Linked DNA regions of Homo sapiens. The protein of the gene in region 3 interacts with the protein of the main gene of each other region in a pairwise test. Each region holds a gene or a part of one and is shown on either strand. Other genes may lie near its edges. The genes, in order: PTK7, ROR2 and DUSP10.

Evidence for each region.
Region 1: the proteins of DUSP10 (region 3) and PTK7 interact in a two-hybrid assay, tested with the Homo sapiens proteins (one study listed by BioGRID and IntAct).
Region 2: the proteins of DUSP10 (region 3) and ROR2 interact in a two-hybrid assay, tested with the Homo sapiens proteins (one study listed by BioGRID and IntAct).

What each region holds. Positions count from the first base shown.
Region 1 is NC_000006.12:43,131,737-43,135,387, reverse strand, and holds part of PTK7 (inactive tyrosine-protein kinase 7 isoform a precursor), read right to left. Parts: intron 3,373-3,651; coding exon 3,224-3,372; intron 2,968-3,223; coding exon 2,701-2,967; intron 1-2,700. UniProt on the Homo sapiens protein: Inactive tyrosine kinase involved in Wnt signaling pathway. Component of both the non-canonical (also known as the Wnt/planar cell polarity signaling) and the canonical Wnt signaling pathway.
Region 2 is NC_000009.12:91,733,696-91,737,346, forward strand, and holds part of ROR2 (tyrosine-protein kinase transmembrane receptor ROR2 isoform 1 precursor), read right to left. Parts: intron 1-3,651. UniProt on the Homo sapiens protein: Tyrosine-protein kinase receptor which may be involved in the early formation of the chondrocytes. It seems to be required for cartilage and growth plate development. Phosphorylates YWHAB, leading to induction of osteogenesis and bone formation.
Region 3 is NC_000001.11:221,732,074-221,735,724, forward strand, and holds part of DUSP10 (dual specificity protein phosphatase 10), read right to left. Parts: exon of another isoform or gene 3,362-3,651; intron 1-3,361. UniProt on the Homo sapiens protein: Protein phosphatase involved in the inactivation of MAP kinases. Has a specificity for the MAPK11/MAPK12/MAPK13/MAPK14 subfamily. It preferably dephosphorylates p38.

The DNA.
Region 1 (3,651 bases), on a different chromosome or scaffold from region 3:
GAGAGGGGCTTCTGCCTGCTTTGTTCACAGTTGCATCCAGTACTGGGAAGAGCTAGCACAAGGTGCTCGACAAATCTCTGTTGACTGAATGCATTCCCAGAGCTCTCCGTCTTCTGGGCTCTACCCTCTAACACCCAGCACCTGATCTGGCCCTGTTTGCATCACACACTCTCAAATGCCACAGGCCTCCTTCTCAGAGCACAGCAAGGGACACTGGCATGGCTCAGTGTCAGCCTCAGTCAGCATCTGTGGAATGACTGATCAAAGCCAGAGTTCCCCAACTTGAACACACATGAAGTATCACCCAGAGCACTTGTTAAATACACATCTACCTGGGTCCCACCCCTAGAGCCTGGGTTGGAAGCTGTGGAGTGGGGCCCCGAATTCTGCATTTTTTTTCTTTTTTTCAAGGCTCCAGCAATGTCTTAGACATTTTTTTGGAGACAGGGTCTTGCTGTCATCCAGGCTCCAGTACAGTAGTGTGATCATAGCTCACTGGAACCTCCAGCTCCCGAGCTCAAATGATCCTCCAGCCTCAGCCTCCCAAATAGTTGGGATTATAGGTGTGCATCACCATACCTGGCTAAATTTTTTTTTTTTTTTTTCCTGAGACAAAGTCTCGCTCTGTCACCCAGGCTGGAGTGCAATGGCACGATCTCGACTCACTGCAACCTCTGCCTCCTGGATTCAAGCAATTCTCCTGCCCCAGCCTCCCAAGTAGCTGGGATTACAGGTGAGTGCCAACATGCCCAGCTAATTTTTGTATTTTTAGTAGAGACGGGGTTTCACCATGTTGGTCAGGCTGATCTCGAACTCCTGACCTCGTGATCCACCCACCTCGGCCTCCCAAAGTGCTGGGATTACAAGCGTGAGCCACCGCGCCCAGCTAACTTTTTAAATTTCTGTAGACACAAGGTCTCACTATTTTGTCCAGCCTGGTCTCAAACTCCTGGGCTCAAGAGATCTTCCTATCTCGGCCTCCCAAAGCACTGGGATTATAGGTGTGAACCACCACGCCTGGCCTGTGTTTTAAAAAGTATCCCTAATGAGGCCGGGCATGGCAGCTCACACCCATAATCCCAGCACTTTAGGAGGCCGAGGCAGGTGGATCACTTGAGGTCAAGAGTTTGAGACTAGCCTGGCCAACATGGTAAAACATCGCCTCTACTAAAAATACAAAAATTAGCCAGGTGTGGTGGCACACACCTTTAAACCCAGCTACTTGGGAGGCTGAGGCACGAGAATCACTTGAACCTGGGAGGCGCAGGTTGCAGTGAGCCAAGATCACACCACTACACTCCAGCCTGGGTGACAGAGTGAGACTCCGTCTCAAACAAAAGAAGAAAAAGTATCCCTAATGAAAGCAGGTGATTCTCAGACCTCAACTGGAGGAAGGCTTGACTGTGCATCTTGCCTTTGCACCTGCACTGTGAGTGTCCTGAGCACTCGTTACACATGTGCTGTGATTCCCACCCAAATCACGGCCTGAGTATAGGTGCATGTCTTCTAAGATTTCAGTATCCTAATGGGAATACTAGCATCACAACTTCACATTTACAAAGCCACTTTCATATTCAAATCTTTTTGCAAAGTTACCCACTCGGAAAGATAATAGTAACATAAAGGTAAGTGGAAGAAGCAGATTGCAAAATAGTTTGTATGTATGTGTGTCTCTGTGTGCATATTGTAATTTTTATTGTGTATCCTTTTAAACTACCACAAAAGGTTTGGAACAAGGCATGGTATAAAGAAATAAGTAAACAAATAAATCCCTATGCCTGTAGTGAGGATATAAGGTTTGTTTTGTTTTGTTTTGAGATGGAGTCTCACTCTGTTGCCCGGGCTGAAGAGCAACGGTGCGATCTCAGCTCATTGCAACCTCTGCCTCCTGGGTTCAAGCAATTTTCCTCCCTCAGCCTCCTGAGTAGCTGGGATTACAGGTGTGCCCCACCACGCCCAGCTAATTTTTGTATTTTTAGTAGAGATGGGGTTTCACCATGTTGGTCAGGCTGGTCTCCAACTCCTGACCTTGTGATCCGCCCGGCTCGGCCTCCCAAAGTGCTGGGATTACAGGCATGAGCCACCGCGCCCAGCCTGATATAAAGGGTTTATCATGTGTACTTTCAGTCATATGTCTTGCTTTTCTCCCCCTCTTTTTTTTCATAAGTAATATGTTTAGTAAAGAAATTTGGAAAGCATAACAAACTAAAACAAATTAAAAATCACCTATAATTTTGTCCACTATTACCTCCCAAAAAAGAAAAAAAGAAAAATCATTTTCATCTACTTCATTTGACCTTTCCAACCACCTTGTGGGGTAGGTAGTAGATTACTGGCTCCATTTTATGGATGAGGAGACTGAACCCCAGTAAGGTGGGTGATTTGCTACCATCGTCACTCTGTGCATTGGGAGCATAGTGGGACCCAGGTCTCTAGATTCCTAGTCTATTGCTCTTTCCTCTGTACCCAGAGGACCATTTTTCTGTGAGGGCTGTCACTATTTCCTCTGGAGCACCCACCCTAACCCCTGTGCCTGGCTCTCTACTGTCTACACCGACTCCCAGTAGTGAACTGATTCCCAAGCCTGCAGGGCCCAGAACTGAGAGGACCTCAGGTGAGTACCAGGGAAGCCTCTGTCCATCACACCCAGACCTGTGTTCCCCTCCACCTCTCCTTGACCTTCAGGGCAAAGGTGCTCACTGGCCACAGTGATGTTGACATCCTGTCTCCGCTGACCAGCCAGGTTGGCCGCGTGGCAGGTGTAGACACCAGCATCACTTTCAGCAATATTGGCCAACACCAGCTCGTGGCCCTTCTGGTAGACCCTGCCATGGGTGGGCAGCCGGACTCCCGCGTGCTCCCACCACACGCTGGGCTCTGGCAGACCCTTGGGGGGAAGGCAGGTCACACGCTCCTCGCTGCCAGCTGTAAACACCCGTGGCTCAAATAGCGGCATGTCTTCAATCTCTGCAAGGACATAAGTAGGAGGAATGGCCCAATTATTGTGGGTCTCAGGGTACATGATGTTCTCCCACAGCAAGCCTAGGCCCTTTCCCAGCACAAACCCTCCCCTGCAGCCCTCTGCATATCCTCTTCCTACTCCCAGCATCCTTTTCTTCCCCTGCCCTCCAAGCGGCTGAGTAAAAACAGAAGCCTAAATCTCTATGTGCCAAAAATGTTAAAGGCAGCCTCCCACATCAGCACCCCAGACCCAGAGACTCACCTGCTAGGTGAAGTGTGGCTTCCAGGATGATGGGTGGGCCCCTCTGCCCCTGGCCAATGCAGCGGTAGATCCCTGCATTGCGTGGCCGGACCTGGGTCAGCAGCAGAGACCCGTTGGCAAACACTGTGGCTCTGCGGAGGTGTGGGGGGCTGCAGAGGGGAGAGTGCAATTTGGAGAAAGTGGCCAATAGGCCTAGTTCTGGAAAGGAATGCAAGGGAACCCCTTTCCTGCAAAGTCGGAAATGTAGTAAGGAATCGACCAGGAACAGGGCAGAGAGAAGGAAGCTGACACTCCAGACTGGTGTGTGTGCCTGCATACACTTGCTCAGGTGCACGTGCAGGTGTGTGTTCCAACTACAGGAGATCAGCTCGGGAAGCAATGAGGCAAATGGCAATGCAGGTGCGAGAGAGAGTGATATGGTTTGGCTG
Region 2 (3,651 bases), on a different chromosome or scaffold from region 3:
CAGAAGCAGAACAAGAAAGAAGGAAAACTCGGCCCCCTAGCTCACTCCGCTAGGTGCTTCTTCCAGGACAAGAGGGTTCAGACTTCAGATGCAAAAGCAGATCCTAAGGACCCGCCATGTGTGGAGAGCGCAGGCCAAGAAGTGCAGTACCGAGCCCCAGGCTTCCCAATGTCCCAGATCTGTCTGGGGAGAAGGCTGTCCCGGAAGAGGGAGTCAGCTCAGCTCTGTGAACTGCAGCTGGAGGAGACAGTTGGTAAAATGCGGAAAGCCAAGAGGGTGAGAGCAGCAAAGTGGGAGGAGAGCCGCGTTACAACTCTGGAAGGTTCTGTGATAAGGGGGAGCAGAAAAACCCGAAGATCCAGAGCCCCCTTTGGTAGGGCGGTTTGTTTTTTAAGGGCAAGATGTCAGAGGATGCAGTTTGGTGGTTAGAAGATGGGGTGAGTTCGGGAACAAAGTGGGGGTGTTGGGGAGAGATCTGCTGCACCTGGGGTGCATGGCTGGACACTGGTAAGGGTGAAGAAGCTGGCCAAGGCAGGGCTCTAAGGAATGCATCAGCCTGCCCTGGGCTCACTACCCCATTTTCACCTGTGAAAGGCTGGCTTACAACAATTGAGCTTGGGGACAGTGGAGGCAGACAGGCCCCTTTGCCTGCACACCCAGCAGAGGCTGTGTCCTCCAGCGTGGCAGAAAACCCAGAAGCTGGCATTTAGTCCCTGAGGAGCCCTAACTCCACCCACGAATGCAGTTCAATCCCATCATTACAGATTTGGCGATTATTTGGTGATTATACAGAGGGCTGTCAAGAATGCTGGCCTTGACCTCCAGGCAAGGAAAGCGTGTAAGTGCTGTGCCAGGTTTGGCCAGCAGGTGGCAGTGCCGCTGTCAGTCATTCCCTGGGAACCCACCCAGGAACGGGATGGGCAGCTGTGTGGGAACAGCCTTGTGCGTGATCACTTTGTGGTATCACTCATGCCTTTCCGGGCCTGTTTCTGTACCTGAAGAGTGATTTGAGACCCCACACTGGGGAATGAGAGTGCACACAGAGCCTATAAAGTGGCCCTCAGCGTGAATGGGCCCAGGGGTCTGGTAAAAGGCGGCGTCAGTGGGCGGGAGCAGCCACGCTGTCCTGATTGTGTGCAGGCACTACTGTGCTCATCACATCACCTCCCCTCCTCTGGGTTCCTGTGGCCGATATTTAAATGGAGGAACAGAGAGGGCAAGCAGTTACAGTACAGGATGTCTTGGATTTGGAGGAAGAACTGAGGCTTCAACCCTGTTCAATCCCATCATTACAGATTTGGGATTATATGGATGGCTGTCAAAAATGTAGGTAGGCCTTGACCTCCAGGCAGGGAAAGATTGTCTAAGAATGCCAAAGCTGTCACTTCTCTTGGGCTAATCCACTGATAGGATGTCTCTGCTGATCTTTATAGGATTTCTCTTTCTCCTTCTCCTCACCCTGAGAATGTACTGCTTATTTCTGAAAGTGCAATTCTAGGCACAAAGAGATCCAACAACTCACATCCTGTTATCTGTCCACACCCTGAATGTCACACAACACTTTCCAACACAACACTGCACACAACGCAGTCATTACTATGCTTATTTCAAAACCACAAGTCTGTTGAGAGCAACTTCAAATTTACTGTTTTCAAAAAGCCACCCACCTAGAAAATCTTCATTCTAAACTCTTCTCTAAAAGATGCTATAAAACCAGGCTGCTTGGATGCAAGCTGATTCCTTAAACAACTCCTGAAGAGATAACTGAGGGACAATCTTGTGCCCTGGATCAGTGCTTGCCAATTAGTAGGGTGTCTAATTAATTCTGAGAGTCTGCAGCTAGCATTTTAAAAGATGGTAAGAACAGACTAGAGGATGTCAGAATGCACGGTTCCTACTAAGGGCTCTAACTTTTTTTTTTTTTTTTTTTTTTTTTTTTTTTTTTTTTGAGACAGAGTCTTGCTCTGTCTCTGGGGCTGGAGTGCAGTGGCGCGATCTGCAACTTCCACCTCTCGGGTTTAAGTGATTCTTCTGCCTCAGCCTCCCAAGTAGCTGGGATTACAGGCACCCGCCACCATGCCCAGCTAATTTTTTGTGTTTTTAGTAGAGATGGGGTTTCACCATGTTGGTCAGGCTGGTCTTGAACTCCTGACCTCGTGATTTGCCCGCCTCAGCCTCCGAAAGTGCTAGGATTACAGGCGTGAGCCACCGTGCCCGGCCACTTTTTTATTTAATGAAATAAAACTGAAAAGAAAAATCCAAGTGCACCGCTTTTACGAAGGGTGAAAGTTATTCCCTGTAACCTATGTCAGTTGTGTGAAATACATGTATGTGTACACTAAGTCATGGCGTAAAGTATATTCTCTATTTTCCACTGTGTGTTTCGGTAAAAACCTTTGAGAAGTCCTACTTTAATGGCAAAGAAAGCTTTTGCAGTGAGAGGTAGCCATATTTTCAAAACCATCTCCCGCTGGAACAGGATGGCATCTCCAGGTTCCTCTCTGTCTCATGATGGCTCTTTCAGTTTGCACAGGACCCCCTGGCCCTGTCCTCAGAGGTCTCTGTACCAGCACATGGGCCAGGCAGTCTCTTCTGTGACCGTGAATGTGATGTTCGACTCTCTAGTCCGAGGGTGACCTGAACTTAGAAGGGCTTGTCAGTGACATGAGGTGACTTTCTGCCTTGGATCCTCATTGTCACCCCTTAACAGGTCAGTGCCCTGTATCCCCTTTGCCCCACCACACTCTCCCAGGAGCGCAGGCATCAGAGATCACCCACTGACTCTAATCTGCAGCAGAGCCTCCCGCTCCCATGGAGAGGATCCAACTAAACTGAGGTGCTGGGGCACCGGCCATCTGCACAGGATGTGTCTTGCTCCTTATGGGATCTGGAGAGAAAATGTGTATGTGTTTGTGGAGAGAGTAGAGACAGCAGGAGGAGGGCTCTGTAGGACTATTGTCTAATTAATTTTCTTCCTTTCCAAGGCCTTTCCCCTAAGAAGGACCCCGGACCCCATCAATGTGTTCGAGTTGTATGCTGGGAACTGGGACAGCCAATCAGAGAAGTTAAGTCCTAATGAGACCAAGGATGAGCAGCTGCAGTTCCTAATTGACTTGCCACTTTCTCAGACCCTGAACCAGGTACCCAAAGACGTGGCTTTGTTCTCTGGAAACCCAGGACTGACAAAGTGTGTGTTCACTGCAGCATCCCTACCACTGATGACCCGCGACTCTTTCCCCAAAACAGCTGCAATCAGGCCTGGGTGCCTTTGGACCAAACGTGGCTCAGAGAGGATAGAAGAGTCAGGAAGTACAGAATGAGAAGTCAAGCAGAGTGAGTGTGGGGGCGCTGAGGCTATCTGCGCCAGTGTGGCAGGCCCGGGGCAGGAGGCCCTGGCGTTGCAGTGAGGACAGTGCTTTGGACCCACACGGTTTGGCTGAGTTAAAAGTGCAGAAGTATATTCCAAGCAACCCACACTTGCTAATTTAAACATACAGGCCAGGAACATTTTTAGGGCAAATCATGTTAGCAATTGCCACTACTTCTAAAAAAGATCTCTGGTTTCTACCACAAATGAAATGGAAGAGGCACCCACTGACCATGCCATTAACTGATGAAACACAGTGGCCACCATCTGTGCGACAGATGGCT
Region 3 (3,651 bases):
GGTCCCATCCATATATGTTGTCTTTCTTGCATTTGAATGATAAGCATTGTGATGCAGATTGCCCAGCCTGCAGATTAGTGCCTAGCACACCAAAGGCATTCAACAATATTTATTGAACAAACAAATGAATCTCCTCTGCCCACAAGTTTGTACAGCTGTGGAGACCACCTACCAAAAAGTCCCTAGAAGCCTAAGATGGTTGGGCTTCTTTGATACCTGTTTTGATAGCTGTTAACAGCTGAAACCACTAGGTTAACAGCTTAAACCACTAGGTTCCCCAGATGAAGAGATTAAATCAACATTAATATTTGGTCCATATTCTAATATCCAGGTAAATATATAGACCATGAACTGCTGGTTTTGAAAGTCCTCAGACTTTGGTCTTTTTAGTTCTGAACTGAAATCTCAAAATTCAAGAAAAAAGGCATCAGTACTCAAAAAATCTTATATTTTATGCTATATATTAGATTCTGTTGTTATTAAATAATGATACATACGAATACCTCAGTCTGTTGATATCTATTGAATCTGTTGAACCTGGCAAGACCTACTTTAACATTAAGGACTAAATCTCTAAAATTAATCATGCATGTGACCTTGGACAAGCCCCATTCCTGTAGTGGCATAATGAGAATACCGGACTAGATCAATGGTTCTCAAACTTTGCTGCCTGTTAGAATCACTTTGGGAGCTTTAAAAAAATCTTGATGTGCAGGCTGCACCCCAGACCAATTTAATCAGGCTTTCTGGACACACGAACTGGGCATCATAGGTTATAAATCACCTTCAGGTGATACCAATGAACAGCCTGCAGTGAAAACTACTGGATTAGGGGCCCTCTAAAGTTCCTTGCTCTTCTCAAAGCTGGGATTCTTTAGTTCCAAAAAGGTGAGATGACCTCTCCTGGAACTAGAATTTCTCTCCTTAATATGTAGTCTATCTTTTTCAACCAACTTGGATTAAACTGCCTAAGCACTCCGATATATCACACATTCATGCCCAAACTGCTCTTCAGCAATGCTGGGGCTTGGAGGTTCTGGCTTCTGATAATGCAGGGTTTAAGGAACTAGATTTTTGCTACTGGTCAAAAGCTCCCACTTAGTCCCTGAGGGTGTATGCACCAGGAGTATGTGACGGAAAGTTTTTCTGCTCCTGTAATTTTGTCAGACCTTCAGATGGGTTTGCCTAAAGGACCAAGTAGAAAAGTGTACATATTCACCATTCTCCCTTCTCCTTTCTCCTATACACACGTGCTTTGAAAACAGAAATAGGCAAAGTGCTTTACCTATTCAGTTTCCTTCCCCTGCTTTGCTTTTCTAATGTGAAATCATGTCTCCTATTGCCAGGAGAGGAGTTTCTTGAACTTGTCCATGACAAGCTGGATGATTAAGTTAATTAACTGTTCTGAATTGGTAAGGGCAAGAGTATTCATACTTAACAGGCTCCCACAGTACTGTGCTTAGAACGACTTGCCCATCCTCCCCAATACCCCTGCCCCTGCAATGTAAGAGGTTCTTACATTAGTGCATGAGAGTAGGAGAGCAGGGTCCAGAGGCTTGATTTATTGACAGCCATCAAATGCCAGGTACTTTGTATCACCTTGTTTCAACCTAGGATGCTGGAGCTGTCCCTGTTTTACAATGAAGAAAACCTGGCCTCTGAGAGGCCCCCTGATTTGCCTAAAGGCATACAGTTGGTCAATGGAAATGCCTAGATTTGAACCCAGGTGTAAGTGAGCAAAATTTCACTCTGCTGAGCACATCGTGAATGAGGAACAGATAAAGCAAGAACATGGCTGGGAGAGAGAGTTCATTTCTATTATCTGTTCACCTACACTTAAATTAGGAAGCAGGAGAGTGTACCCAAAAGCTCAGAGAGAGGACAGCCAACTAACTGTGCAGCAGTTCAGAAAGAAGTTTCAGGACTTCCTGAAAGACAGGAGCAGGCCATTCAACTCCTTCCCTCCTTTTTCCTTCACATTCTAACTCAACACAACCCTAGGCTCAGGAACCAGCGCACCCCTCCTTCCATCTACCCTTTTATAGTCAGTCCACAATCCTTATTCCAAAAATAAATCCTCCTGATGAGATGATGAGAGGCAACAAAAAGCAAAGCTAAAAAGTTTTATGCTTTTGTTATGGGACATTATTTGGACAGAATTATTATCATGTTTTTACAAATTTCCCTAAAACAAATAATTCTGGATATACCCAAATTACTCCAGCCTCCTGGCCCAATATGTTTTTGCAATTACTTGGCACTCCAACTCTATGCAACTTAAATTAGTTAACAGTCACCAAGTTATTTTTAGGCCATAGCAACACACACACTCTACTATACCTAGCTTGTTATTTGTACTCCTTAGGAACAAAATTTGCCTTTGTACTGGCACTATCATTTCCTTTCAATCAATATCAATAAAAACATTCTACCATATTTATGGAGTGCTTACCATGTATGTGTATAAAGTTCTGAACACTTTACACACATTAATTCATTTATTTCAGAAACTAACACTTTGAGATAGCTATTGTTATATCCTCTTTTTGTTAATGAGGTAACTAAGGAACTGAAGGATTCAGTTCCTTCCCCAAGGGCACATACCTAGTTAGAGGGGAGCCAAGGCTAGCATTCAGGCTGACTAGATCCGAAGTTCTGCCTTGATTTCTCCATCATTTGCTACAAGGCTAATGTTTGACATTTTAGCCTTGGATGTTAACCAGAGGCTCAGAATAACAACAGCACGTTTATGAATGTAGATATGTCTTTATTTCAGGTATTTTTTAAAATCCTCATAACATCTCTGAGAGAAAAGGGGAGACTTTTATTCCCTTCCCCACCCCACCCCCGAAAAAAGGGCAGAAACAGAATATTTTTCACAGGTCTCTGATTTCTGAGCCTAGCCATCCACTTTGTCATAGAACTCTATTGCCAATAAGAGTATATTTCAGAATTCTTTTCAACTAGGGAAAAGTGTGCAATGTATGGTGCTCAATTCTAAGGAGTGATGAAGTTTTATAGTATAAAGGCCTAACTGCCTGCATGATCAAATCCTCCCCATGGATCATCCTTTTAAACCATTTCCCTCTTCTTCTCACATTCCCCCAGTAAAGGCCTTTGGTACAGAGCAGTCCTATAAAGATTGTAGCAGTTGGTCATTCCTTGTTTTACAACAGCATAGAGCAAGTAGAGGCATGGGCTCTGACATACCAGGGAGGAAGGGGGACACACAGACCCCAAGGAGGCACCTGGAGCCCTCCTACTCCCAGGGAGGGAAGCTCCTCTGTAGACCTGACTGCCAGTCAGTCACAGAGGGATTCGAAGTTGAAAAGCACTTAAAAATGGGTACATGACACTCAAGTGTTTACGAGTGAAAATGTTCATAGTATACTATAAAATATTTCCAGCTTTATTGAATTTGAAACATTAATTTACACATTAAACATACTTAAATACATTAAAACATTATCTATATTTTTAAATATTTCAACAGAAAAGAGAAAGCAAATAGGAAAAATATAATTGTTTAATCTGGTTGATAGGTGTATGGATGTTCATTACACACTTTTCTGCTTTTCTATATGCTTGAAAATGTTTATAATAACATTTTTGAAGGCATATACTGTCTTTAAGAAAAAGGGGCAGTAGACT